Linked DNA regions of Homo sapiens. The protein of the gene in region 1 binds, or shares a complex with, the protein of each later gene. Each region holds a gene or a part of one and is shown in the gene's direction. Other genes may lie near its edges.

Region 1 (7,024 bases):
TTTTTTCATTCTTTCATCACTCACATGAGGTTTTTTTTTTTTTTTTATGTTTTTTCTCCTTCACCAAACACATTTGAAATGCTTTACATGTAAACTGAAGATAGTCCAGGTACCAAGCATTTATTTATCATCATTTATCATCATTTCTGGATGGGCTAGATCAGCTCACAGATCCCTACAGCTTTGCCTGCCATCCACCTGCATTGCTGCAGGCTGTTTAACACTCTCACCTCCTCAAGTTAAGGTAGGCTAGCCAGTAAATAACACTTCCCCATAGGCTTACCTCAGACATCTTGCTTCACCCTACCATGGTACATTTTTAATTTAATTTTTGGTTTTATTTCAACAGCTTTTGGAGTAAAAGTGGGTTTTGGTTACATGGATGAATTATATAGTGGTGAATTCTGAGATTTTAGTGTATCCATCACCATGGTACATTATTAAAGAACTTTCTTTCAGTAACAGATTTTTTAACATAAAGGCCAAAGTTTAAATGAAATAGAAAACAAAATCACCACCACTGTTATAATGATCATGGAAAGTGATTTATGAAGTACAGGATTTACCATAAGCAGTACAGTGTCATCTTGTGATTTTTCTTCTTCCAGAAAGTTTCATGAAAGATTTATTAAATATATAATATCAAGAGTTTGCTTTTATTTGCATATTATTCCTTTGTTCCAGAGATAATTCTGAAGGTACTTTTTAAAAGTTGCTTATTCTGATATGCTATTTAAAATTTTTAGGGATATCCCTGTGGATTTCAAGTACATAGCAGAACCCAGTATGCACTCAATGCCTGCAGTGACTTTGTCTCCAAATGGTGAGTTAGTATGTAGATTGTATTTTTAAATGAGCTTCTAAGATACAGTGTGATTTCTTTATTCAAAAGAACTTTGGCCCCTTCCTTCTTGGGGAAGTTTGTCACTGTGCCATTATTTGTATAAGGTAATCTTTACAATATTAGAAAGAATTACTGGTTTTCATATGCAAGTCACCTCACCTACTTTTCTGTGTCTCTTTTTAAATAAAAATAAAAGAAACAATGATTTACAGCTAACATTGATTGAACATCAGATTTTTATTTAACAATCAGTTTTCTTTTCTTTTTTCTTTTCCCCTCCTCTCCCCTCCTCTCCTCTCCCCTCCCCTCTTTTCTTTTCTTTTCTTCTTTTCGAGACAGGGTCTCCCTTTGTTGCCCAGGCTAGTCTCAAACTCCTGGGCTCAAGTGATCTTCCCTCCTCAGCCTCCCAAGGTGCTGGGATTACAGGCCTAAGCCACTATGCCCGGCCAGAGTTTTCTTTTCTAATTCTCCTTCCAAACAGAATCACGTTCAGTAAATCATTTAATAATGATTTGGCCAAGGCAGAAGAATCACTTGAACCCAAGAGTTTGAGACTAGCCTGGGCAACATAGAGAGACCTCATCTCTACAAAATAAAATTTTAAAAATCAGCTGGCATGGTGGTGCACATTTGTAGCCCTAGCTACTTGGTCAGGCTGAGATGGGCAGTTTGGTTGAGCCAGGAGATTGACTATGATCATGTGACTGTACTCCAGCCTGGGCAACAGAGCAAGACCCTTCTCTCTAAAAAAAAAAATAGTAATAGTGATTTACTGTAAACTCTTTCAGGGGATAGGAAGTTTTGGTCTGATTCTCCATAATGAGAGAACACTTTAGCAATTCACTATAAAAGATTTTCTCAGGCAAAAATTAAGAAGATAAATCTATTTAATATTGTTTAATCCATTGTCTTTTACGTACAAGATAATTTGTGCTACAGATATACTGACAATATACTGATGTAATTATAGCTTTACATGAGAGTCTTAAAGTGGGAGTTCTGATGTTTGGGGGACCTTGTCATTGAAACCACTGTCAATTCACATAATTAACTCCAAGTGTAGGGCAAGGAAGAATTTGCTGTTCCATCAGGGCCTCTGACACAAGCAAATGGTAATAGTTGTCAAATGCTCTATCATTTTTATGAGAAGAGAAACCTAACTGAACCTTTTTTTGATCATTGCTAGATTATATACTTCGTCACTGTGCATCTATATTTCATGTAGCGTATTTTTAAACCACCTATTACAGATTTTGTGCCCATCTTGAACAAGGCCATTTACCCACTCAGGCATTATTTAAGTCTGTTTCCTTAGTAAGTAATGTTTACATGTACAGTTGGCCCTTTGTATCCATGAGCACCATATCCTGGGATTCAACCAGCACGAATCCAGAATATTCAACAAAATAAACAATAAAAAATAACAATACAACAATTAAAAACAACACAGCATAACAACTAGGTACAAAGCATTTACGTTGCATTAGGCATTATAAGTAATCGAGAGGTGATTTAATGTATACAGGAGATATGTAGGTTATATGCAAATACTATGCCATTTTATATAAGGGACTTGAGCATCTGTGAATTTTGGTATTGGGTAGGGGTGCAGATCCTGGAACCAATTCCCAACAGATACCAAGGGATGACTATATATAGGATGCAAGTATAGTCATGCATTCCTAACAACAAGGGTACTTCTGAGAAATGCAGTGTTAGGTGATTTTGTCATTTTGTGAACATCACACAGAGTACTTACACAAACCTAGATGGTATAGTCTACTTACCCTAGGCTGTATGGTATAGCCTGTTGCTCCTAGGCTTTACCCCTGTATGGCATGTTGCTGTTCTGAATAATGTAGTCAGTGGTAAGCATTTGTGTATCTAAACATAGAAAAGGTACAGTAAAATCTCAGCATAGAAAAGGTACAGTTAAAATTTAGCACTATAATCTTATGGGACCACTGTCATACGTGCGGTCCATCATTGACCAAAACATTGTTAAGTGGTGCATGACTATAGACGCTGCAGTTTAGGCTCTAGGGGCTTTGATGAATCCTAAGTAGAGAAAAGCATTGTAGCCTTTTAAAAAGTTACTATAATTTTTAATATATCTTTTTTTGTATAGTTTTATTTAATAACCCTAGGCTTTCTCACCCCTTAATCTTTCTTTATTCTGTAATTACCACAGATAAGTCTCTTTCTCCTATTTCCCATAGTTCTGTTGTCTATACTTACTATAAATTAATTTCATTTCACAACTTTTAGCTTATTTCTTTAACATTAAGCTTGGAATTTCTATATTTCCTTATTTTTTTAAAAACTTTTATATGAGAGTGCTCAATGATATAGGATCGTATATGCAAAAGCCATTAGTTTATATATTAATACCTCTTGCCAGTGACATATTTATAACATTTTACAGGTGGTATAGTAAATTTATTTTTTAGTATTATAAAGTATTTGGGAGCAAAACTTATATTAATCACAGTGAACATATTTAAAATAAAAAGTTTTAAAAATTGTTTTAGTCTTCCTCTAAAATACCTCATTTATTGAATTTACAGGAAAATGGCTAGCATGCCAATCAATGGACAACCAAATCTTAATTTTTGGAGCACAGAACAGATTTAGATTAAATAAGAAAAAAATTTTTAAGGGCCATATGGTAGCAGGCTATGCTTGTCAGGTGGACTTTTCACCAGACATGAGGTAAGTTTAAATCTTCTAATCCATTCTCGTATTCAAATATGATTATATAAACTGTTGTTGTACAAATAACACTTGACACATCACTCTCACATAATATGTTTTTATGAGAACTCGATGATCTGTCAAAATTGTCAAAATGCTGGATATAAAGGCAAGAACAAATTAGGAAAATTACATTTTGCTTTTTTTAGGTTCTTGCTTCAGTATATTCCCTTCTATTACTTAGGCTTATGCCCTTTAGCCACCTAATAAATCCCTGTCTATATAACCAATGCCTTATTTTCTCTGCTTTTCTAAGCAAGACTAGAAGTGCTATAATCACTGTATTGCTATGATTGAATGAACACCAGAAGAATTAATTGTGTATTACAGTGTTGCAGTTACAGCTTCACTACAGCTTGTCTGTGCTGAAACCTCAAATCCAGCTTTTGAATATTTCTAGGTCACACTGGATTTGTGAAGCCTACAGCATGGTTCTTAGTTAAAATGTATAGGCAGAAGTAATTTAGAAATCCCAGTAACTTTGTTTGTTTAGCCTAGTAATTGGGCCTACCTCTGATTCAGTCTTAGATGTATTCAAAAGATATTAAAGCCAAAAAGTAATTATGAAAGTGTTAGAGCCTACTGTGATAGAATAGATCTAAAGGTGTTCCCTAGCTATATGTGGAATTGGTTCTCCAGTCTCTGTTTCTGACTATCTAGAGACTGATTGTGTAACCTCATTCACTGTGGCTCCTGGGACTCCCAGTCTTCCCAGTTAAAAATAATTTTCTACTCTTAGATTGGTTGGGAGGTTTTTTTAATAGAATTTCAAATTATAGACTGCTTCATGTTCTACCATCTTATTCTGAGTATTGTATATTTGCATTGGATTTTTTTTTTAATGTTAACGTGAAAAGATAACGTCCCTATTCCTCATTCGCCTTACCAATTTAAGGTATTTTAATAATTTGAATTTATCTTTCTTCCCATTATAGTTATGTGATTTCAGGAGATGGAAATGGAAAATTAAACATTTGGGACTGGAAGACCACAAAACTCTACAGTCGATTTAAAGCTCATGATAAAGTGTGTATAGGTGCAGTGTGGCATCCTCATGAAACTTCTAAGGTCATAACATGTGGTTGGGATGGTCTCATTAAATTGTGGGATTAATGAGATTAATCCTTAAACTAGCTGGGATCATTTTTGATCCATTGTCATATTTATATTTAATTATTAAATGTATCTGATGATAACTTGATTTACAGATAATGTTGATGACATTGACCCTTTGTTTAAAAAAAGAAACTGTAAATTTGACATAATTTCATTTGCAACTTCATTTTGTTTTTTATAAATGTTATTTATACAGAAAGTGGCTATTGACTTTCTATTTGACAAGTAGTTATAATTGGCAAGCAGTTTGAGTTTATACTCATGACATACTGAAAGCATCTCTTTGGGGTCAAGAAAGAATCCCTAGTGGATTTGGGATTCTAGAGGAGGTGTTATAATTAATTATTCAGAAAAATGCATGTATTTACCTCTTCAACCAAAAGGGCAGTAAAGAATAGGGATAATATATTTTAATGTAAATTTGGAAGAAGGATAAAATCACCCACAGTTACTCTCCCTATTATTTTCACTGGGTCAAGTTTTAATCTTTTGGCTTCATGAGTTCCACTCCCTTTGATGATATATGTTGTATATTTTTAGTTGTAAAGCAGTAATCTTTAACTGTAGCATTCCTCTAATTATAAACAGTGAAAAATCAAAATCAGTCCAGAGTTCTTTTGTTGACTTAATTCCTGATCAGTATAGACAGGACTATATATATTTAATCAGAGAATTACATTATATCTGAAGATGGAGCTCAGGAGAATGCACCAAGACTTTGAATTGTATTTACATTCACTGTCAGTAAAGACCTGGCTACGCTTTGAGAAATCAGGATCTCCTAGGTCATTGCTTCGCAGCTGTGATTACTGAAATCCTCCTCATAGGAGATAAAGTACGAGGGGTAGAGTCCAAGATGTCAACTTGTAATTTCTTTGAAGTCATATGTTTTATCTTTAAAATTATTCTTATTTTACCTGTGAATATATACAACAGAACTTTTTAAGATTAAAAAATTTTTAAACCTCTATGTCTGAAAAAAAAAATGACACTCCTGGAAGATGGCTAGGGTTCCCCAGTTTGAGAAGCAGTGGCCATGGTGAAAAATAGTTTTTGAAAACATCAGATTATAAAATCAAGATAGTCCGGACGCGGTGGCACATGCCTGTAATCCCAGCACTTTGGGAGGCTGAGGCAGGTGAATCACCTGAGGTCAGGAGTTCAAGACCAGCCTGGCCAACATAGTGAAACCCCGTCTCTACTAAAAACACAAAAATTAGCCAGGCTTGGTGGCTGGCGCCTGTAATTCCAGCTACTCAGAAGGCTGAGGCAGGGAGAATTGCTTGAACCCAGGAGTGGAGGTTGCAGTGAGCTGAGATCATGCCACTGCACTCCAGCCTGGGCGACAGAGCGAGACTCCACCTCAAAAAATAAAATCAAGATAACCTCTTGAATGTAATAGCTCATAGCACTTTAATTTGGCAAGCCATTTTTCCTGTTTTATTATAAATCTATATTAGATGTTTGAATATGGTTTGAAATATTTCACTACCGTGCTGAAAAAGGTTGGTTGATAGCAGCTTGGAGTGCTAACTGGAAGATCAAAATCATGTCTCTTGCTGATAACCTAAGAGCATTAAGCTCTGAGTCCAGTGAGGTCATAGCAGTGTATGCTCCTTGCCCTTACGGAGTGTCTGTTTTTAGAAATTTAGATTTTAAAAGGCGTGGGACATACGACCAGGCCCTATAGCCACATAAATATAAATTTCATAGAAAAAGAATAAAAGCGGAGATATATTTTTTGACACAGAGGCACCCAAAGAAATACAAACATTGCCTAGCTGCTGCCATTTCTGTAACTGCCCAGAAGGGTGACAGATTTCTGAAGGGGAAAGGATTCAGATATGACCTTTTCTTTAGTCCCAACCACTAGTTTTAACAAATGTGAATTATTGAAATGTGAAGGGACAAAAAGAATCATACATTTAAACTGTCTTGTTCAGCATACCAATATTGTATGTTACAAATCATCATTTCTAAATCTGGATTGATTCTGTTGTGTTTTTGACTGTTTCTAAAGTAAGTGTGTATAAAAGTCTCCTTTTTAAAAAGATCATATTTTTAAATAAAGCATTTTTTGTAGAAAGTGCTATCAAAATGTTCATCTTGTTCATCTTTAGTCTCCTTTTGAGTCTTAAGTGTATTGAGACACTAGATTAAGCCATTTGCAGTTTTAAATGGGTCATATGGAGAGAAATAATGCTTTAGAGGTGGATGTGGTTTATTCAGGTATATCAGTGGGTTTATAATTATATAATAAAATACATGGCAGTACCCTCAGAGCACATTAACACATTCCATATTCATTTA
Region 2 (6,227 bases), on another chromosome or scaffold:
AGGCTGGAGTGCAGTGATGCGATCTTGCCTCACTGCAACCTGCATCTCCCAGGTTCAAGCAATTCTCCTTCCTCAGCCTCCCAAGTAGCTAGGATTAAAGGCATGTGCCACCATGCCCAGCTGATTTTTGTATTTTTAGTAGAGAAGGGGTTTCGCCATGTTGGCCAAGCTGGTCTAGAACTCCCGACCTCAGGGGATCCACCTGCCTCGGCCTCCCAAAGTGCTAGGATTACAGGTGTGAGCCACTATGCCTGGCCTCCACCTGGATCCTTTTACAAAGCACCTCAGTGAGTCAGAGGACAAGAAGGTAAAATCTGTTTTAAAAAATAACAGCCAACATGAGGTAGATACTATTATTCTCATTCCATTTTTTTTACAAATGAGGAAATGGAGGCTCAGAGAGGTTAAAAGTCACCTGCTTAAGTCCATAAGGAATTAGCAGAGCCAGAATTCAGGGACCCCAACTCCCGAACCCTTCTCTGACAAGCACTACACTATCTATTCAAAATACCTACTGGATCTTACTAAGTTGACAACCAAATACTTCAGAAGCTATAAATTAAAAGATTACACCTGGCGTGGTGGCTCACGCCTGTAATCCCAGCACTTTGGGAGGCCGAGGTGGGTGGATCATGAGGTCAGGAGTTCAAGATCAGCCTGGCCAAGATGGTGAAACCCTGTCTCTACTAAAAGTACAAAAATTACAGCGCACCTGTAATCCCAGCTACTCGTGAGGCTGAGGCAGGAGAATTGCTTGAACCTGGTGGGTGGAGCTTGCAGTGAGCCAAGATCATTCCACTGCACTCCGGCCTAGGCGACAGAGCAAGACTCCGTCTCAAAAAAAAAAAAAAAAAAAAAAAAAGACTCATCAGTGATGACACTTCTTCTAGGTATTAAATAACATAGTCCAGGTATTTGGTTTACTATTACAGGAAGAACTGCCTTAAGAGAAGTTAAAACTGTATCTTCCTTGGAGCCATCTCTTAGAAATCCTAATTCTGTCTCACATGCTAGGTGATTCTGATGGTTATTCTTGGACCATACTTTGAGAAATATGGCTCCAGATAAGTAGATATCTATTATCATGTTCATTGGATTAGATTCTCAACTACCTCTCTACTGAGAGGTGTATCACCCAGGTTGAGTCCTTATAATATTACTTAATCACTCTGACCCTTGTCTATAAAATGGAAATACTATTTACTTAGGTTTGTTGTGAGGAATAAATGAGGAAGGAGAAAATATTAAAAAGTAAACATTTTTAAAAGAAGTATGAGAATGAACTACTCCTACAAAATATAAAAACATACTATTAGGGCCAGGAGTAGGGGCTCACGCCTGTAATCCTAACACTTTGGGAGGTTGAGGTGGGCGGATCACTTGAGGTCAGGAGTTAGGAAACCAGCCTGGCCAACATGGTGAAACTCCATCTCTACCAAAAAGTACAAAAAAAAATTTAGCTGGGCATGGTGGCAGGTGCCTGTAATCCCAGCTACTCAGGAGGCTGAGGCACAAGAATCGCTTGAACCCGGGAGGCGGGGGTTGCAGTGAGCCAAGATTGCACCACTGCACTCCAGACTGAGTGACAGCGTGAGACCTTGTCTCAAAAAACAAAAAAAAAGACAGAAAAACAAAAAATATACTATTAAGTTGAGCCTTATGAAATGCTACTGCTTGGTCGTTTTTGACCTACAAAAATGGCAATGTCATAATTGAATCAAAATATAAAATTATAGTAATTCTTTAAATGAAGTATTGTTGCAGGAATAGGCAGACCTAGAGTATAGAAAAGCACATCCGTGAAACAGGCCCATGTGTACATGGAAATTTAGTTTACCAGAGTGGTATTACAAATAAAAATAAATTGGGTGCTTGGTGGTTTTTTTTTTTTTTTTTTTTGAGACAGGCTCTCATTCTCTCGCCCGGGCTGGAGTGCAGTGGTACGATCCTAGTTCACTGGAGCCTCAAACCCCTGGGCTCAAGCTGTCCTCCTGCCTCAGCCTTCTGAGTAGCTAGGACTACTAAACTCTTCTATAAATGGGTAATTGCGATAACTAGCTACCTGTTGGAAAAAAGTAAAGTTAATCCTCCTTTCACATTATACTCCAAAATGACCTGTAGATGTAACCAAATAACTAATTTTTTAAAGAAACTAACAATATTAGGAGAAATTATTTTTTAAAAGTATTTTTATGAGCCAGGTATAGTGGCACACCTGCAGTCCCAGCTCCTCCGAAGGCTGAGGCAAGAAGATCACTTGAGCCTATGAGTTTGAGGGCCAGCCTGGGCAACACAGCAAGACTGTCTCTATTTTATTTTTTGAAAGTATTTTTATAATCTTAGATAGAAAAGGCCTTTGTACGGGAGACATAAAAACCTAGAATCCAGAACAACAAAACATGATACATTGAATATCAAAATTTAGAACTACCTGATGAAAAACATCATAAAGTAAAAAAGACAAACAGCAGACTGGGAAAAATGTCATATATAAAATAGACAAAAAAATTAAAGTCTAGAATATATAAAGAACCATAGCTCAAAAAGAAAAAGACAATGGAACAGGCAAAGGATATAGGCAACAATCCACAGAATAAGAAATATATGACAGAAGAAAAACTAAAAAAAAAAAAGAAATATAAAAGATTAAATATGTAAAAAGATGCCAACCTCACTAGTAGATAAGAAAATGCTAGTTATATATTAGCACTGTATGACCCTTGGCAAGGCATTACCAGAACCCACCTCAACCCTGGCAAAAGGCTGGCATCAGAGTGGCATCTTACCTTTGACACATAGTAACGATCAACTCCAGAGATGCGCCTATCTCTTTCCATCAGACTCCAGTGATACCCAAAATGAGCAACCCTTTTTTCCTTCAAATAAGAGACAATTATTGTTGCAGTTTATAAAAGTGAGTGACCCAATTGATAGATACTACAATTTTTAAAAGGGACATTCCAGAGAAATGGAATCATCGTTTAAATAAAAATGCAAATTAGTAGTACAAAGAACAGAATCTCCTAAATAAAATCAGACCACTAAACTTTAGGATTAAGTTGGTACCTGTGACTTTTTACACTATTTTAACCAACATGAATTTTTTTTCCTTTTTTTTTAAAAAAAAAAAAAAAGAAATATCTAGTTGTTGTCTTTTGGGACACTAAGAAACAACAGCTGTAGATCACACGTGAAGAACAATAACAAAATCAAAAAGTAAATAAATTTATATCCTGTACTCTTGAGATGATGTGAAGGACTAGGAAGAGGGGAAAATGAATCCTGATGTAAAAAAACAAGATCTCGCAGTAAATTCCTAAAGGCTTGCAAGAGAAAGTGGGGAATAAAAAAGTCAAGGGTGGCCGGTCGCGGCGGCTCACGCCTGTAATCCCAGCACTTTGGGAGATCAAGGCGGGTGGATCAACCGAGGTCAGAAGTTCGAGACCAGCCTCGCCAACATGATGAAACCCCGCCTCTACAAAAAAAAAAAAAAAGCCAGGCGTGGTCCCGGCTACTCGGGAGGCTGAAGCAGGAAAATTTCTTTCTTTATTTATTTTTTTTTGAGACGGAGTTTCGCTCTTGTTGCCCAGGCTGGAGTGCAGTGGCGCGATCTCGGCTCATCGCAACCTCCGCCTCCTGGGTTCAAGTGATTCTCCTGCCTCAGCCTCCCGAGTAGCTGGGATTACAGGCATGCGCCACCACGCCCAGCTAATTTTGTATTTTTAGGAGAGACGGGGTTTCTCCATGTTGGTCAGGCTGGTATCGAACTCCCGACCTCAGGTGATCCGCTCGCCTCGGTCTCCCAAAGTGCTGGGATTACAGGCGTGATCCACCGCGCCCAACCAGGAGAATCTCTTGAACCCAGAAGGCGGAGGTTGCAGTGAGCGATTCTCAGGCTTGAGCCACCTTTTCTAATCTACCTTCCCGGCCCCCGCGTCGCTACTCTGCCCTAAGGCCCACTCTGATACACCCAGAAACGCTGTTTTTCACTAGAGCAGGATGTAGTTTCTATCGGGCTTCGTTTCGCAAGCCTCGGCTTCTAGGCAACCGGAAGCAAGTAGAGGGCCGACCTCGGAGAGAGGGTTCGCAGGCTGACGGTCTCCCTGCCCACCACCCTTTTCGGAAATCAGCCCGTGGAGTCGGCCCCCGGGCCGAAGCCGGCTTACCTTGCCCCCGTTAGTGAACCTGTGGATGTACGCAGTAGCCAGTCCTGGAATCAACAAGCACACGCCCATGACGGAGAGTCCGGGGAGAATCTCGAACCACATCTCTGCCCCGTTACCTAGGCCAAAACCCTACTTCTGGGTCCTTGAAAGGTGACCTGGCTTCGCCTCTCTTCCCAGCAAGCCCCGCGGCCGCCCGCGAGCGGGGCGGTGCCACGTACGGCTCCGGAAGAAGCGACGGAATCTGCTAGGGCACAAGAGAGACGGGCGCTCGGGCTCTCGCAGTCCTCTTCCGTCAGTGTCTTTTGCTTCGACTCCCGGCGGAGCGCGCAACGTGGAGTGACGTGCAGGGGCCAAGTGCAACCCAGGCAGCCACGGCTGTTTCGGAGCTCAGGACTCTAAAATGGCAGAGCAGCTTTCTCCAGGAAAGGCGGTGGATCAGGTGTGCACCTTCCTTTTCAAAAAGCCTGGGCGGAAAGGGGCTGCTGGACGCAGAAAGCGCCCGGCCTGCGACCCAGAGCCCGGAGAAAGCGGCAGCAGTAGCGACGAAGGCTGCACTGTGGTTCGACCGGAAAAGAAGCGGGTGACCCACAATCCAATGATACAGAAGACCCGTGACAGTGGTAAACAGAAGGCGGCTTACGGCGACTTGAGCAGCGAAGAGGAAGAGGAAAATGAGCCCGAGAGTCTCGGCGTGGTTTATAAATCCACCCGTTCGGCGAAACCCGTGGGACCAGAGGATATGGGAGCGACAGCTGTCTATGAGCTGGACACAGAGAAAGAGCGCGATGCACAAGCCATCTTTGAGCGCAGCCAGAAGATCCAGGAGGAGCTGAGGGGCAAGGAGGATGACAAGATCTATCGGGGAATCAACAATTATCAGAAATACATGAAGCCCAAGGATACGTCTATGGGCAATGCCTCTTCCGGGATGGTGAGGAAGGGCCCCATCCGAGCGCCCGAGCATCTACGTGCCACCGTGCGCTGGGATTACCAGCCCGACATCTGTAAGGACTACAAAGAGACTGGCTTCTGCGGCTTCGGAGACAGCTGCAAATTCCTCCATGACCGTTCAGATTACAAGCATGGGTGGCAGATCGAACGTGAGCTTGATGAGGGTCGCTATGGTGTCTATGAGGATGAAAACTATGAAGTGGGAAGCGATGATGAGGAAATACCATTCAAGTGTTTCATCTGTCGCCAGAGCTTCCAAAACCCAGTTGTCACCAAGTGCAGGCATTATTTCTGCGAGAGCTGTGCACTGCAGCATTTCCGCACCACCCCGCGCTGCTATGTCTGTGACCAGCAGACCAATGGCGTCTTCAATCCAGCGAAAGAATTGATTGCTAAACTAGAGAAGCATCGAGCTACAGGAGAGGGTGGTGCTTCCGACTTGCCAGAAGACCCCGATGAGGATGCAATTCCCATTACTTAGGTTTCCCATAATTCTTAAATTTAAAAAATAAACGTTTTGTTCTTTTGGAAGTCTTACTTCGTGTCCTTCCTTTGTAGAGAAAGTGACAGAGCAGGCGGGTGGTGAAGTAGGGTCCTGGATTAAAAGCTTCAAGGTAGGTATAATCAGGATTTTTAGCCCTAGGATAACCATTTTGCCTGTGTTTCTTTTCAGAACACTTTGGCATAAATTATAGGGGTGGGAGTAGTTTGAGAAAAGAGCTATAATTTGCTCGAAGTAACCAAAGCCATGATGAAAGCAAGACCTCTGAGCCTGTTTATTATATCACATTTCTGTATCACTTAATAGTTTACAAAGTACTTTCATGCATTCTTTCTCTTGGGAGCCTGTACTACAAAATATACCCGAGCCAAGGTGTTGGGGAGAGGGGTTGTGTTTGGGGAACTGGTAGCTAGCACCACAGGCTTCACATATGGGAAATGTTCCTTGCTGTCTTGGTTATTTATTTATTTATTTGTTTTTGAGACGGAGTCTCGCTCTCTTGCCCAGGCTAGAGTGCAGTGGCGCGATCTCAGCTCACTGCAACCTCCGCCTCCCCGGTTCAAGCGATTCCCCTGCCTCAGCCTCCCGCGTAGCTGAGACTACAGGCG
Region 3 (7,954 bases), on another chromosome or scaffold:
TAATTAAACCTATTACTCTTAGGCCACTGAAAATGAAGCCAAGTGATTTGACAAAGGCTGCTCACAGTTAGCAACATTGGTATAAGACCCCAGGATCAGCACTTATTCTACCACTCGACACTACACTTTCAGTCAATTATTCCTAAGATCCCTTCAAAGTCTTATAATAGCTAATATTTGAGTGCTTCATATCTGCCATGTATTAATCTAAGAGCTTTACTTCTCTTAACTAATTTTTCTTTTTAAAATTTTATCTTCATGACATTCAATAATTCTCTTCTTGACTATCCCATAAAACAGGCAATTATCATTGCCATTTTAAAAATGAGGACACAAGAGAAGCTAAGTAAACTCGCTCAAGATTGCAAAATATGAATGATGGGGATGGGATTCAAATCATTTTTAGGGACATTTTTTTCCTCCCTTTGTAGAGTGTGGAACTCTTGTAAGCATGCCTTTGTCTTGCACATCATCATATCCTTCCTCCCCAAATCTCCAGTGCCTAGCACAGTGTAACACACATGGAAATTGTCTACTAAAATAGTGAAGTATTTAATTTTACCCCATTTAAATTGTTAATTCATCAATTCAGTATGCTATTGATTGATGTTTATATATAAGGTACTTTATAAACCTGCTTTCAATCCCTAAAACTCCTCTACAAAGCAAGTAATCCTATTTTACAGGAATGAAATAACTTGTCCAAAACAACACAGCAAGAAAGAGACAAATCTTAGGCCATTCCAAGGGCCACACACACTTGCCACTAAACCACCCTTTTTTTTCTTTTTTTTTTTTTGAGACAGAGTTTTGTTCTTGTCACCCAGGCTAGAGTGCAATGGCGCGATCTTAGCTCACTGCAACCTCCTCCCAGGTTCAAGCGATTCTCCTGCCTCAGCCTCCCGAGTAGCTGGGATTACAGGCACACACCACCATGCCCAGCTGATTTTTATATTTTTAGTAGAGACAGGGTTTCACCATATTGGTCAGGATGGTCTCGAACTCCTGACCTCAGGTGATCCACCTGCCTCGGCCTCCCAAAGTGCTGGGATTATAGGAGTGAGCCACAGCACCCGGCCTAAACCACCCTTTTCAACACAGTCCCTGTTCTCAAAGACCTCCTAATCTGATAGGGATATCAGATATCATCATTCCAACAACACTCTAAACTCCCTTTAACTCTGTCTTTATATTTAACTATCTGGCAGTATGTCTAACCTAGCCCGGGACAGTTGCAGACAACAGAACCCACTTAAGCAGAAAGGGATGTATTGCAATAACAGACTTTGGCGGAACTTCCAGGAACAACACCTAACCCACAAAATAACACCAATTACACTGCAATGTGATAAGTGCTAAAGCAGAAGCTTGGGGGCCAGGCATGGTGGCTTATGCCTATAATCGTAGCACTTTGGGAGACCAAGGCAGCAAGATCACTTGAGGCCAGGAGTTTGAGACCAGCCTGGACAACATGGCAAGACCTTATCTCTATAAAAAATACAACAATTAGCCAGGCATGGTGGCACATACCTGTTATCCCACCTACTGGAGAGGCTGAGGTGGGAGGATCACTGGAGCCTGGGAGGTCGAGGCTACAGTGAGCCATAATCATGCCACTGCAATCGGCCTGGGCAACAGAGTAAGACTGTCTCAAAACAAACAAACAAAAGTAGTAGCTAGGAAGAGAAAGAGGGTCTGGGGGAAGTAGAGAAGTTAAACAGATAACTGAATAAGCCTTTTAGGATAAACAGAAATCCTCTAGCAGAGAATACTGTTCTTTGACCTCATTAGAACCCTGATTTATTGGCCTCTATTTTCTTCCAATCTATCAGCCCTCCCCTTTTTCTTCAGTTTTCTTCCAATCCAGCTTAGATTCCATAGCCCATCATTCCAACAACACCCTAAACTCCCTTTAACTCTGTCTTTATATTTAACTCTCTGGCAGTACCTCTAACCTGGTCAGGGACAGTTGCAGACAACAGAACCCACTTAAGCAGTAAGGGATGTATTGCAATAAAAGACTTTGGCAGAACTTCCAGGAACAACACCTAACCCACAAAATAATACCACCTTTGCCACAATCCAGGAAAGTTATGGCTATCACTGCAGCAAGCCACCAAACCAGGGAGCTATTGACTGGAGAAATTTACTGCCATGACTGGCAGCAAAACTGGATGACTCACACCCTCCTTCTTTCCACATTTAACTCAGTTCCAAATTCAATTTTCACCTTAGGTGCAAGGGAGTCAAGAAAATGGTTTTTAGTTTTCCAGATTTTTCAGGAAGAGAAGACATATTAGAGGTTAGAATGTGTCTTGAGCAAGCGATGTCCTTGCCATACCCAGAAAGGTTTTCTCCATGCATGCACTAAACCGCTGGATATGCTGGAAAAAAATTTTTTTTTTCCTTGCATCCTACATTTCTCTAGTAACCTCATTCTCCCACACTCCACAGTGACTTTCAAATCTTCTACAATATTCTCAAATTTCTCAAAACTGGATCCTCAACTGGATCCTGGATAATCCCTTATCCCCATCGGTTAGCACATCCTCTCCTCCTCTTTACAATCAGATCTATGAAAAATACTGTGTAGGTTCACTACCTACATTTTCTTGTCCAAATCCTTGCCTCATATCTGGCTTTTGGCCCAATCACACCAACAAAATAACTCTTGCTAAGGTTACTGTGACCTCCATGATGATAAAAGCCAAAATATGTTTTTCAATCTTCATGTTATTTAAATTCTAGAAATTTCTATCACAAATCATTCTTTTGCTTCTGAGACATTCTTCCAGTCCTCCTTCCTTTCTTCTGTATCTCCTGTAGGTTCACCTGTTCTTCACCATTAAATGTTGGAACTAGTCAAGGTTCTGACTTAGCTGACCTTACCCACACCTATGGCTCAATTCATGTATATACAAATTATGCCCAATTTTATATTCCCAACACAAATCTCTCTTCTGAGCACAAAGCTGTATTTCAAACTGCCTCTTGGATGTCATGAATGACCCCACACAATCAATCAATCAATCAATAAAAACTGATCTCAGCTGGGAGCAGTGGCTCAGGCCTGTAATCCCAGAATTTTGGGAGGCTGAGGCAGGTGGATCACTTGAGGCCAGGAGTTGGAGACCAGCCTGGCCAATATGGTGGAACCCCATCTCCACCAAAAATACAAAAATTGGCCGGGCACAGTGGAGGCGCCTGTAATCCCAGCTACTGGGGAGGCTAAGGCAGGAGAATTGCTTGAACCTGGGAGGTGGAGGTTGCAGTGAGCCAAGGTTGCACCACCACACTCCAGCCTGGGCGACAGAGCAAGAACCTGTCTCAAAAAAAAAAAAAAAACAAAAAAAAACTGGTCTCTAATCATCTTCTAGTGTTCCCTATCCAGCTTGAGGGATTCCGTGATAGTGAGTGAATGGTACCACCATCTATTCAACTACATAAGCCAGAAACCTAGGAGTTACCTTTGATTCCTCTCTTCACTCCCTAAAATCAACCCATCACCAAGTCCCACCCATTTTACCTCCTATATACCTCTAGAATCTGTCCAATTCTCTGCAGTTCCACCCATATCTCAGTCCTCACTGACATCTCTGACCAGGATTACTGCATATCCCAAGTGGTCCACATACATCGACTAGGGCTTCCCCAACCCCCGTCTGTTCACACCACTGAGCCTGAGGGATCAAGTCCCCTCCTCCACCACACCCCACTGGGGGAAGACGGCTCAGTGGTATCTCATCCGTTTTAAAATAAAAGCTACAAATTCCTGCAAGGTCTGACCGCTATCACGTACAGCTTCATCTTGTACCATACTCCCTTCATTCTCTTTGTACCAGCCACACTGGCTCTTTGTGCTTTTAGTCATTTTCCTCCCAAGTGCCTCAGGGCTCTGAACAAGTAGTTCTCTATGGAAGGTTCTGCCTTCACTTCTTCACCTAATTAATTACAACACTTCCTGCAGCTACCAGCGCAGGCATCTTTTCCTCTGAAAAACCTTCCTGCTTATTTCAGGCACTCATAGCATCAGGCAGCAGTAGGAGGCATTTCCATGTATTAGTGAGGTCATTGTTTAACGTTTTCCCCACCAGAGTTAAACGCCCTGAGAGTAGGGACCGTGCCCGGTTCACAACATACCCCCAACGCGCTGCTAAATGAATATCAGCAGGACGACTGAGGCAATGACCACGTTCATGGGCATGAGTCTCAAATTTCTCAACAAGACTGTGCTCTGGAGAAGGAGTCGGACATTTCCTTCATCACTGTCTCTCTCAGGGGGGCATACAGTAGGCCCTGATCAAAAACTGCAAAATCAGTGGCAGAAACAAGTCAGCCTCCTCGGCCAAATGGGGCACCGGAGGAGGCTGGGACGCAGGCCTTTCTCCCTGGGAATGCCCGGCACAGGACTGGCCACGATGGGCGCTCTTGAAGAAGGGAGCCGCAGGGGCTGGGTCTTGCCGCCAGAGACCCCAAGGCTCCGCTCCTGCCCCGAAAGGGAGCCCAGGCTACTACTTACCACAGCTGGGGACTCGGGGCCCGCCTCCCACCCCTTGCTGTCAGCACCCTCAGCTGAGAAGGGCAGGTTCAGACTGCACAACCGAGGCGTCGCCTCCAGACTCAGGCAGCCACCCACCCCGTTCTTCCTCATACGTACTAGGCGTCAGCTCCAGGTCCCCGAGTCGCTGCGCTGAACTAAACGCCGACCCCAGTCAGCCAGCGCGTTTCCACCCACAAGACCCAGCGCGCCTAGGGCGGTCGCCAGCTCCGTCCACCAATCCTGGTATCGCACTCTCATGACGTCAGAAAGATATGCCCAATAACAAGAGACTATCCGAGGGCGGTGCAAATGGAAATATTGAAAGCCGATTGGTTCTTCCAAGCTGGAAGTTGTGGAGGAAGGACTAATTTGGAACCAATTGCGTGGCGCCTGAGAGCGGCAGCGCGGTCAGTGGCGGCGCTGAAGAGACCGGTTGCCGCCATGATAGAACAGCAGAAGCGTAAGGGCCCAGAGTTGCCGCTGGTTCCAGTCAAGCGGCAGCGGCATGAGTTGCTGTTGGGAGCGGGGTCTGGCCCAGGAGCCGGGCAGCAGCAGGCGACGCCGGGAGCCTTGCTGCAAGCGGTAAGTGAAGAAGCAGGCGGCCTTTGGCCCTCAGCTCATCTTCCTCCCCTCAGAGCGCTGTATCTGGTGATCCCTGACCCTTTCCCGCATTGCGGGGGCAGAACGAGAGTTTCTACGCAGAGTTAAAGCACATAAACACTGTAAAAGCTCCCCATAGCCTGCGAATGCTGCGTACGTGTTCCCCCGTTTGGCGCCCGTTTTCAGCCTCTCGACTGCCCTGAGATAGCATTAGAATTAGAGTTGAGGACCTTGGGCTCAAAACCCTGACCCGGGTTTAAGCATCCTGACTCTAACATGGATCTGGCATAGAACAAAAATTCCGAAGAGTGTGTAGAATGAATGAATGAGGGAGGGAAGAAAAAAGGGAAATGATTTGTGTTGGCTCGTTTTGGGACTTTGGGCAAGTTGCTTTTCCCTTTATTTCTCTGCACTAGTATTATTAACAACTAAATAGCAGCTAACATTCATTGACTCTTGTACTAAAGTGTTTCGTATATGAAATTTCCATTGATCTTGGTAGCAGCCTGTTAGGAACGTTATTAACCCATTTTGCAGATGGAAAAACAGACTTACCAAGTACGTGATAGAAGCAGATTTCGAACTGAGAAACCATGCTCCTAACTACATTTTTTGTAAGATAGAAATAGTGATCACACTTCTAATGTCCTGTTTAGGCTCAGACGAGGAAATACGAGTGTCCTCACATCTCCTCAATAAATCCTGCTGGCACCGTCCTCAAAATAGGTCTAGAATTGCTACTTCTACCATCTCCATCATTGCCTCATGGCCTAAGCCATTATTATCTCATCTGGCATTTTTGTAGTGGGACCCTAACTGGTCTTCCACTTTCTACCTTTGTATCAGCACCTGTTACCAAGCCAATAACCAAAGGAATCCTTCTAAACATCAGATCACATTACACTCTGCAGAAAACTTTCTGGTGGCTTTGTACTTCATCCAGAGTAAAAACCAAAATTCTTGTAATTATTTGCCCTCTTTCCCTTTACCTCTCTGACCAATTTCTTATTGCTCACCTGGCTTCAGTTACTCTCTCTTCCAAGCCTCTGCTTCAGGACCTTTGCATTTGCTGTCCTCTCTGTGGGATTGCTCTTCACAAATGTTTACATGGTTTACTATTCAGCTCCTGCGAATATTTGCCCAAATGTAATTTTTTCAGTGAGGATTTTCCTGACCACCCTATTTTAAATTGCAGTACCACATACTGTGGAACCCACATTGCTTCTCTCTCTCTCTTTTTTTGTTTTTTTGTTTTTAGACAATCTCTCTGTGTTGACCACTGGCTCAGTACAGCCTCCACCACCTGGGCTCAAGTGATCCTCCTGCCTCAGCCTCCTGAGTAGCTGGGACCACAGACACACACCACCACATCTAACTAATTGTATTTTTTTGTAGAGACAGGATTTCACTCCTGAGCTCAAGCAATCCGCACACCTTGGCCTCCCAAAATGCTGAGATTACAGGCATGAGCCACCATCCCCATCCCTTCTTTTGCTCTATAGCACATGACACCACATATATAGTTTGCTTGTTTTCTCTCACCTTCCCTTCTCCCTTCCCCCTTTCCCACTGGAACAGCGAGCTCCATTGTTTATTTTGTTCATTGCTGTTTGCCCAGTGCCTAGCACGTAACTTCTTTTTTTTTTTTTTAAGATGGAATTTTGCTCTTGTCACCCAGGCTGGAGTGGAGTGGCGCAATCTCGGTGCACCGCAACCTCCGCCACCCGGGTTCAAGCGATTCTCCTGCCTCAGCCTCCTGAGTGGCTGGAATTACAGGCGCCCGCCACCATGCCTGGCTAATTTTTGTATATTTTTAGTAGAGACGGAGTTTCACCATGTTGGTCAGGCTGGTCTCAAACTTTTGACCTCAAGTGATCCGCCCACCTCAGCCTCCCAAAGTGCTGGGATTACAGGTGTGAGCCACCGCGCCCAGCCTGCACATAACATTTTTTAAAACTAAATGAATCTGGCCGGGCTTGGTGGTGGGTGCCTGTAATCCCAGCCACTCGGGAGGCTGATGCAGGAGAATCGCTTGAACCCAGGAGGCGGAGTTTGCGATGAGACGAGATCACGCCATTGTACTCCAGCCTGGGCAACAGAGCAAGACTCCTTCCCCAAAAAATAAATAAATAAATAAATAAATATGAAAATGCTGGGAAGTACTGAAGAGATTTGGGGATTATGGGTAGTATACTTCTCCCATTTGACAAGTGAGCATATCAGCCCATGTTTAGATGAATTGCCCAAGTGTCATCTTGGTGTCCAAGACCATAATCAAAACTACTTCACCCATGCTGAGGATCCGTTTGCTATGAAAAAATAAGAAATAAAAATAGGCCAGGTGCAGTGGCTCATGCCTATAATCCCAGCACTCTGGGAGGCCAAGGCAGGCAGATCACATGAGGCCAGGAGTTTGAGACCAGCCTGGCCAACATGGTGAAACCCCATCTCTACTAAAAATACAAAAATTAGCCGGGCGTGGTTGTGCATGCCTGTAATCTTGGCTGCTCGGGAGGCTGAGGCACCAGATCCCTTGAACCCAGAAAGCATAGGTTGCAGTGAGCCGAGATCACACCACTGCACTCCAGCCTGGGTGACAGAGCAAAACTCTGTCTCAAAACACACAAAAAAAATTAAAAATAAAACAAAACTATTTCACCCAGTACTCCATACCAAGCAGAGTTGTTGGGAAAGTCAGTTCCATCATTTGTTAAATGAGCCAGGCCAAATGTGGTGGCTCATTCCTATAATCTTAGTGCTTTGGGAGGCCAAGGAGGGAGGCCAGGATTTTGAGACCAGCCTAGGCAACGTAGC
Region 4 (7,823 bases), on another chromosome or scaffold:
GGACACATTCCTTGGAGAATCTTATAAAAACCATGGTCCTTTTTCCCAGAAAAATGTATTTACAGCATATAAATAAATTTTGCACATAATTTTAGGCTGCTCATATACCCCATGAAGTCTATCTTTGGTACTCCAGATTAAAAACACTTGGTTTAGAGGGACTTCTGAGGCAAAAGAGGATTTCTTACAAGTCTCTAATTTTCTACTTCATACAGAAACACATTTATGATTTTTCAGTAATAGTTAATTAGTATGATACAAGAGAACAGGGGTGTGGCTAGCCTAAAATAATGAATAACCTATATGCTACGATATTTATATTTTGTCTTTGAAATATATGCCCCCTAATTAGGCCCTGTCCTTCACTAGCTGACAGACCATGGACAAATTAGGCCTTAGGCTGTTATTTCATCTTTATACAATGGGGTTAGATTAGATCAGTGGTTCCCAGCTCTGACTACATTTTATAATTTCCAGAGAACTTAAAAAAAATTTTCCCCTGGGCTCCAGGAAATCTCTGGGGAGAAGCCAGGTGATTTTAACCTATAGTCAAGGTTGAAAACCACTGGATTACATGATGTCTGAGTTCTTTTCTGCCGCTACAATTAACTAGACATATGGGGTTTGGGGTTCATTTTTGTTTTTGTTTTGGGGGTTAAACACATCAACTGAGTTTGAGATGTCAGCTTAACTCTTGGGCTGTTCTGAATGACTGACCTGTTAATCCCTTACCTCAAATAATGTACAATAAATAAAAATGAATTGAGCATTCACTGTACTTTTCTTTCCCTTTAGGAAGCAAAATGAAATTTCTGCAAAAGAAATGAAATCTCTGATTGTCTCCATCCTGAATATACAACAGAAAGTGCCAAAGAAAATATTTTTCTAAGGGTCAGGATCCCATGAAGTATTCTACAAAATTCTTGAAATTTTAAAAGGTTAAAGAGCGAGTCAGGCTGTTAGAGGAGGATTCTCCTGTTGCTGCTGTAGTAATCACTGGAGAATTGTTGGGAATGGTCTGGCACCATGCCATCTTTACTCTGTCTCCATTTTTTTTTTATAGCAGCCTTTTCTATGTGATTCTTGGGCTCATTCTCTGTTTTGTGCTTTGTCTGTGAAAGTAGTTGTGTTTCACAAGGAAAAGCCTTGTTGTTGTTACATTTAAAAAATAGCTCAAAGATGAGAATAATGAGAGAAATGCTGAGTTTAAGGTAGTAGAGAGACATGATGGAAATGGAGAACACTAGCCTTATACACATAATTCTCATCACTGAACTATCATGGCCCCTTTAAACCCATGGGCTGTTTGACCTGGGCTAAGGAATAGACTCATCACATATCTCCATTGTTTTGCCTTATATTATATCTAGGGGAATCTCACTTAGGAGGAAGCCCTACTTGTAATATTATAAGGTACTGTTATTAAGTACCTTATAAAATTAGACATCTTGCAACTCCTCCTCCAAATTATGTGGCATTTGAGTAGTTTGCTTGTGCCTCACATGTCAACATTAAACTTTGTGGAGGCTGGATGCAGTGGCTCACACCTGTAATCTCCACCACTTTGGGAGGCTAAGGCAGGAGTTTGAGGGTGGGAGTTTGAGACTAGCCTGGGCAACATAGCAAGATCCCATCTCTACAAAAACATTTTAAAAATAAGTAAATAAATTTAAACTTTGTGAAATTATAGCTAATATGAAAATGTCCTTTCAAGGGCATGGGAGCCACCTTTATTTTTTAGTGTCCACCATGTGCCATGCACTGTGGTATATGTATGCATATCATCTCAACCAATCCTTAAATCAACCTTATGAGATAGATATTTGCATCTCCATTTTACTAATAAACTGAGGCTGGGTGCTATGGCTCACGTCTGTAATCCCAGCACTATGGGAGTCCAAGGCGAGTGGATCATTTGAGGTCAGGAGTTCGAGACCAGCCTGGCAACATGGTGAAACTCTGTCTCTACTAAAAATACACACAAAAAATTAGCTGGGTGTGGTGGCAGGTGCCTGTAATCCTGGCTGCTCGGGAGGCTGAGCCATGAGAATCGCTTGAGCCCAGGAGGCAGAGGTTGCAGTGAGCCGAGATCGCGCCACTGCATTCCAGCCAGGGTGACAGAGCGAGACTCCATCTCAAAAAAAAGAAAAAAGGAAAAGAAAAAAGAAAAAAACAAATTCAAAGAAGTTAAATACGTTGCCCAAAGTTGTACAACACAGAACTGAAGCCAAGACTTTTATGGACACAGAAAAAGTTGGTTAGTCCTACAGATGGAAATTTCATCTCAGTAGGATTATATAGCTATTTCTTTTATTAATAAAAATTTTCTATTAAGTGTACCAGAGCCACTTTTCAGCTCTGAGGATAAGGAACTTTATAGGTGCCTAGATGAGACTCTTTTTATTCCCCTAGAAATGTTGAAATTTTTGCTCTAATTAAATTAGACTCAAAATATGAACATTCCTTGAACATATACCACTTAGTCATCCAGACCTTTAATATCTAAAGTAGTAGTAGTAGTGATTGGAAAGAGAAAGTTTTCAGTGATGGTGCAGTGTTTTTTTTGTGTGTGTATGTGTGTGTGTGTGTGTTTTGTTTCGGTTTTTTTTTTTTTTTTTTGAGATGGAGTTTCGCTCTTTTTGCCCAGGCTGGAGTGCAATGGTGTGATCTCGGCTCACTGCAACCTCCGCCTCCCGGCTTCAAGCAATTCTCCTGCCTCAGCCTCCTGAGTAGCTGGAATTATAGGCACCCGCCACCACACCTGGCTAATTTTGTACTTTTAGTGGAGACGGGGGTTTCACCATGTTGGCCAGGCTGGTCTCGAACTCCTGACCTCAGGTGATCCACCCACCTTGGCCTCCCAAAGTGCTGGGATTACAGGCATGAGTCACTGCACCCGGCCTGTGTGTGTGTGTGTGTGTGTGTGTGTGTGTTTTCAAACTCATGGGCAAATTCAAGTTCAGATGGTGCACTTTTCATTGATTAATGTTATAGCAAATGTCAGTTTGTTTTCTTCAGTTTCTGCTGATGGTTTTAACTGGCACAGAAAGTATTTATTCAACCTTACAAAACTGTGTAAGTTGTATTGTGATACAGTTTATTGACTTGTACAGTATTGTCATTACAACCCATTCAGGTATGCATGAATCTGAAGCAGAACACCATTTAAGACTGGTGCTGTATAATATAATTCCTACAGATGTGGGTCCAGGGAATAGAACTGAGCCTGTCTTTTTTTTAATGTTAAGCAGGTTACCCCCAGTGGGGCTTCTACTAGACATCTCTCCATTTGGTCTCTTCTTACACTCCAACCCAGCAGGAACAGTTAATAATTGGATGTTTATAAAATGGGGGTAAAAGGGTTTACTGTGATGGATCCTGGCTATCCCTCTAGGAGGAGACCTTTGCTTCAGCAATGGTGTCTTCATCCTCGCAGCCTGAAGCTGCTTCATTTCCTTAGGTCTGTTGTGTTTTCTGTAAAGTGTTAGGAATTCTGGATATTTTTGTAAAAGAATCAAGATTTGTATAAAATGTTGTTTACAGATCTTTTAATGAATAAATACATAAACCCCCCACAGATCCCTTGGAGAATTCTTTAAGATCTTTTATGTCACTTAAATCTATAGCTAGCACATTTACCTAATGGTACTTCGGTAATAAGAATTAGTCTTAGACTGACCAGGCTTAATAACGGAGGTCAACATTTCCAGGCTCTTGGCAGACAAAGGCTGGGTCTAGACTGCACACTGGGCAGGGCATATAGTCTGACAACTTTATTTGGTTTTTACCTGCTTAATCAAAGGGAGGCTGCTTAGTCCAGGAGCCATGCAGAAGAGAGTGCATGGGCAGCAGCTTGAGTGGTTCGGAGGCAGTGAGGAATGCCATTCTATTACCGTTAAGTCCTAAAGGCAAAATGACAGGATTTTTAAGGAACTGAGGTTCCTTTTGATACGCAGACCATAAAGCTTCACAATTTTAATTGGAGACTGGCGCCCAATTCTAGAGTCTCTTTAAAAAATGTACTTACCCAATGCAAAGGTTTTAAGGGCACCGAGGGGGAAGGATAGTTGGGGTACAGCAAGGAAGTAAAAGAGGAATGACCCGGGGTGCAGTGGCTCACGCCTGTATTCCCCACATTTTGGGAGGCCAGGAGTTCGAGGCTAGGCTTGGCAACATAGAAAGGCTCCATCTCTACAAAAAAAATTAAAAATTAGCCAGGCATGGTGGTGTGCACCTCTAGGCCCAGCTACTCGGGAGGCTGAGGTGGAAGGATCGCTTGGGCCCGGGGGGTTGAGGCTGCAGTGAGCTATGATCACGCCACTGCACTCCAACCTGGGCAGCAGAACAAAGACCCTGTGTCTACAATAAAAAAGGAAAAAAGTCTCGCACAGAGGAAGAGAAGATTAAGGGGAGAAGGTGGGAGTAAGCAGAGGTGGGAAACCAGTTTATCTCTCCCCGCCAAATGCTGCAGCCAGTTCCCTCCAAAAGTGTTAAGGGGCTCCCTTTCCAGATATCAATGTTTTGGAGGAAACGAAAAGCCCCAACTTCAAATCGCCGCCATTCGCAGGCAAAAAAAGGGGCAGTAAGCAGAGGACAGGAAATTGAGGCCTTTCGCTGACGCAGACAAGCCAAGACGTTACGTCACGTCCGCCCAAAACAAACCAGCCCGGCAATTTCTAGATACCGGGCGGACCCGCCTTCAAAATTAGCAACTGAGCATGCACTAACGTCAATACGGAGGGAACGTGATTACATCAGTGTCAGGCGCCGGCGTAATTAAATATAACTGAGTTTACGCAGACGCAGAAAACGCAGGCAAACCTGAGGTCCTCAGAATGGCGGGCACAGGTTTGGTGGCTGGAGAGGTTGTGGTGGATGCGCTGCCGTATTTTGATCAAGGTTATGAAGCCCCTGGTGTGCGGGAAGCGGTGAGTGCGGGGTGTCTTTGTAGCTGACTCACTGCTAGCTGGCTCGGTACTGAAAGAAACATGTTACAATTTGCCACTTCTACCCTGGTCCCTATTCTCTTTCTTAGGCTGCAGCGCTGGTGGAGGAGGAAACTCGCAGATACCGACCTACTAAGAACTACCTGAGCTACCTGACAGCCCCGGATTATTCTGCCTTTGAAGTAAGTATGTCTTGAGCCTAGGTGTGAACGAGAATTCCTGTGAACCTTTATTTTGGATTGAGAGCTTTAAATTCCAGTTTTAACCATTGCCTGCATAGCTACTACTTACCTACTGTATAGGTGTCAGTCTATTGAAAACAACTAGATAGATAAGTCTTCTCCGAGGTTCTTATTCTAAGATCCATAGGAAGACTTTCTGGGGCTCCACAACTCACTTAATGCAAAAATTTGTGGCTACCATTCTTTGAGATAGGATCCATGCGTAAATTCTCAAAGGGACCCTCTCCTGCCAAGATTCACTCTACAGCAAGTGATCTAGGGTTTTTTAATATGTATAAGCCTAATTACCTAAGCTCTTTAGAACCACTGGAGAGTGGCATATTAAAGTCTAGTTATTTACCAAATGTATGTGATACGACTGAAAGGACAAACCATATCCAAGTGTATACTACTTTTTTCTCAGCCTTCTCCTTTTTTCTGTAATCTATCCGATGTTTTTATTAACACATTTCTGATTAATGTAGGCAATAATTTTCACTGATATGAATACTTTACAAGTGCTAGGTGCCATTCTAGATTCTGAGATCATAGAGATATATGGGGTTTCTTTTTTAATATATTTTGTTTTCTTTTAATTTTTCTTTTCTTTATTTAAGACAAACATCCTCTCCAAAAAAGATAGGGTTTCTGAATACAGAAAAATACAATACAGTGAGGAGCTAGATATATAAAACAAAAAGTTTACAATAGTATGTATAAATGTGTAATAATATGTAAAGGACCTATAGCGGAGGGTATGTATAAGGACAAGAGGATTAGAGAAGGGAGTGTCCATGATTGCCTAAGGAGTCAGATGCTGTTCTACTCCACACATTGAGTATGATACTATTTTAAATGTATAACCTTGAAGTACACCCAGGATTCTAGTTAGGGTCTAGTTAGCTAAATGAAATGTAAGATATCATTTCTAAATTATTGGATTCAAGTATTTCAGTATGTACAGCTTGGAGGATTTTTTCCCATTATACCTAATCGTTTATTTATGAAAGGATTGTATTATTAAAAGGCAGTATTTAGCTGGGTGTGGTGGCTCACACCTGTAATCCCAGCACTTTAGGAGGCTGAGGTGTGAGGATCACTTGAGACCAGCCTGGGCAACATAGTGAGACCCTTTCTCTACAAAAGAAAAATTAAAAAGTTAGCCAGGCATGATGGCATGCACCTGTAGCCCCAGCTACTCAGGAGGCCAAGGTGGGAGGATCACTTGAGCCTGGGAGTTCAAGACTGCTACAGTGAGCCATGATAATGCCATTGCACTCCAGCCTGGCAATAGAGTGAGACCCTGTCTCAAAGGGAAAAAAAAAAAAAAAGATATTATTTACATTAAAGTAACATGAAAAAATTGTTAGTTAAGTTTGTTGTTGTTTTTGTTTGAGACGGAGTCTCATTACGTCACCCAGGCTGGAGTGCAGTGGTGCCATCTCTGCTCACTGCAACCTCCACCTTCCGGGCTCAAGTGATTCTCCTGCCTCAGCCTCCCGAGTAGCTGGGATTGCAGGTGCCTGCCACCATGCCTGGGTAATTTTTGTATTTTCAGTAGAGACGGGATTTTACCATGTTGGCCAGGCTGGTCTTGAACTCCTGGCCTCAAGTGATCCACCCACCTCAGCCTCCCAAAGTGTTGGGATACAGGTGTAAGCCACCATGCCCAGCCTTGGCTGAGTTTTAAGTAGAAGACGTATGTTCCTATGAACGTGTTTTCCTATGCTTTTTCTAAATATTTGTACCTAGGTGTAGATGTTAACCACATTAAGAACTAAGTACAGTAATGCTTCCTTATTGGACTGATTTCTGAAGGTTTCAGATAACTGCATTCAATCACAGACTTTTTAAAATACTTTTGCCAGTTTTTTTCCTTCTCTCTTAAATACCTTTGTAATTAGTTTACTGATGATTTAATTAGTAAACTCCCAGGTTCAAGTGATTCTCCTGTAATTAGTTTACTGATTATTTAATCCTTTCTTTTTTTGAGACAGAGTCTTGCTCTGGTGCCCAGGCTGGAGTGCAACTCCTCGGCTCACTGCAACCTCTGCCTCCTGGGTTCAAGCCATTCTTCTGCCTCAGCCTCCCAAGTAGTTGGGATTACAGGCACGCACTACCATGCCCAACTAATTTTTGTATTTTTAGTAGAAACGTGGTTTCACCATTGTGGCCAGGCTGGTCTCGAACTCCTGACCTCAAGTGAATCACCTGCCTCGGCCTCCCAAAGTGCTGAGATTACAGGTGTGAGCCACCACACCTGGCATCCTTTCTTAGTAATAGTTGGTAATATTTACTGGGTTCACTGTCTTACTTGGTGCACATAACAGCTCTATAAACTATATAACTATGTTTGCTATCCCCATTTTTTAGCTGGGAAAACTGCAGCTTAGAGAGGCTAATTGACTAAGACCTTAACTGTTCTTCAAACTGCCTCTGAAATTACTCTTTCATTAATTCATTTAACAACTATTTACGAAGGTCTGTTCCATTCTGGGTATTGGAGAACAGTATCGGCAGGGTCCATACTCATGAACCTTAAAATCTAGAGTGTTGAGACAGACAATAAATAGATCAGAAAAATTGTTGATAAATGCTGCACAGAGAATGATAGTGATAAAGTGACTGGGCGACTCCAGGTTGGGTGGTTGAGGAA

What was found.
Region 2: CDC40 (region 1) and RNF113A share a complex: the UniProt entries of both Homo sapiens proteins name them as parts of the pre-catalytic and catalytic spliceosome complex.
Region 3: CDC40 (region 1) and SNRNP40 share a complex: the UniProt entries of both Homo sapiens proteins name them as parts of the postcatalytic spliceosome P complex.
Region 4: CDC40 (region 1) and BCAS2 share a complex: the UniProt entries of both Homo sapiens proteins name them as parts of the postcatalytic spliceosome P complex.

What each region holds. Positions count from the first base shown.
Region 1 is NC_000006.12:110,225,421-110,232,444, forward strand, and holds the end of CDC40 (pre-mRNA-processing factor 17), read left to right. Parts: intron 1-746; coding exon 747-823; intron 824-3,411; coding exon 3,412-3,556; intron 3,557-4,533; coding exon 4,534-4,711; 3' UTR 4,712-6,812; downstream 6,813-7,024. UniProt on the Homo sapiens protein: Required for pre-mRNA splicing as component of the activated spliceosome. Plays an important role in embryonic brain development; this function does not require proline isomerization.
Region 2 is NC_000023.11:119,869,953-119,876,179, reverse strand, and holds RNF113A (E3 ubiquitin-protein ligase RNF113A), read left to right. Parts: upstream 1-4,446; 5' UTR 4,447-4,566; coding exon 4,567-5,598; 3' UTR 5,599-5,705; downstream 5,706-6,227. Other genes in the region: NDUFA1 (NADH dehydrogenase [ubiquinone] 1 alpha subcomplex subunit 1), read right to left, coding at 2,787-2,876, 4,167-4,268. UniProt on the Homo sapiens protein: Required for pre-mRNA splicing as component of the spliceosome. As a component of the minor spliceosome, involved in the splicing of U12-type introns in pre-mRNAs. E3 ubiquitin-protein ligase that catalyzes the transfer of ubiquitin onto target proteins.
Region 3 is NC_000001.11:31,293,779-31,301,732, reverse strand, and holds the start of SNRNP40 (U5 small nuclear ribonucleoprotein 40 kDa protein), read left to right. Parts: upstream 1-4,944; 5' UTR 4,945-4,981; coding exon 4,982-5,122; intron 5,123-7,954. Other genes in the region: ZCCHC17 (zinc finger CCHC domain-containing protein 17), read right to left, coding at 4,520-4,651. UniProt on the Homo sapiens protein: Required for pre-mRNA splicing as component of the activated spliceosome. Component of the U5 small nuclear ribonucleoprotein (snRNP) complex and the U4/U6-U5 tri-snRNP complex, building blocks of the spliceosome.
Region 4 is NC_000001.11:114,578,604-114,586,426, reverse strand, and holds the start of BCAS2 (pre-mRNA-splicing factor SPF27), read left to right. Parts: upstream 1-4,811; 5' UTR 4,812-4,835; coding exon 4,836-4,928; intron 4,929-5,035; coding exon 5,036-5,128; intron 5,129-7,823. Other genes in the region: DENND2C (DENN domain-containing protein 2C), read left to right, coding at 796-827. UniProt on the Homo sapiens protein: Required for pre-mRNA splicing as component of the activated spliceosome. Component of the PRP19-CDC5L complex that forms an integral part of the spliceosome and is required for activating pre-mRNA splicing.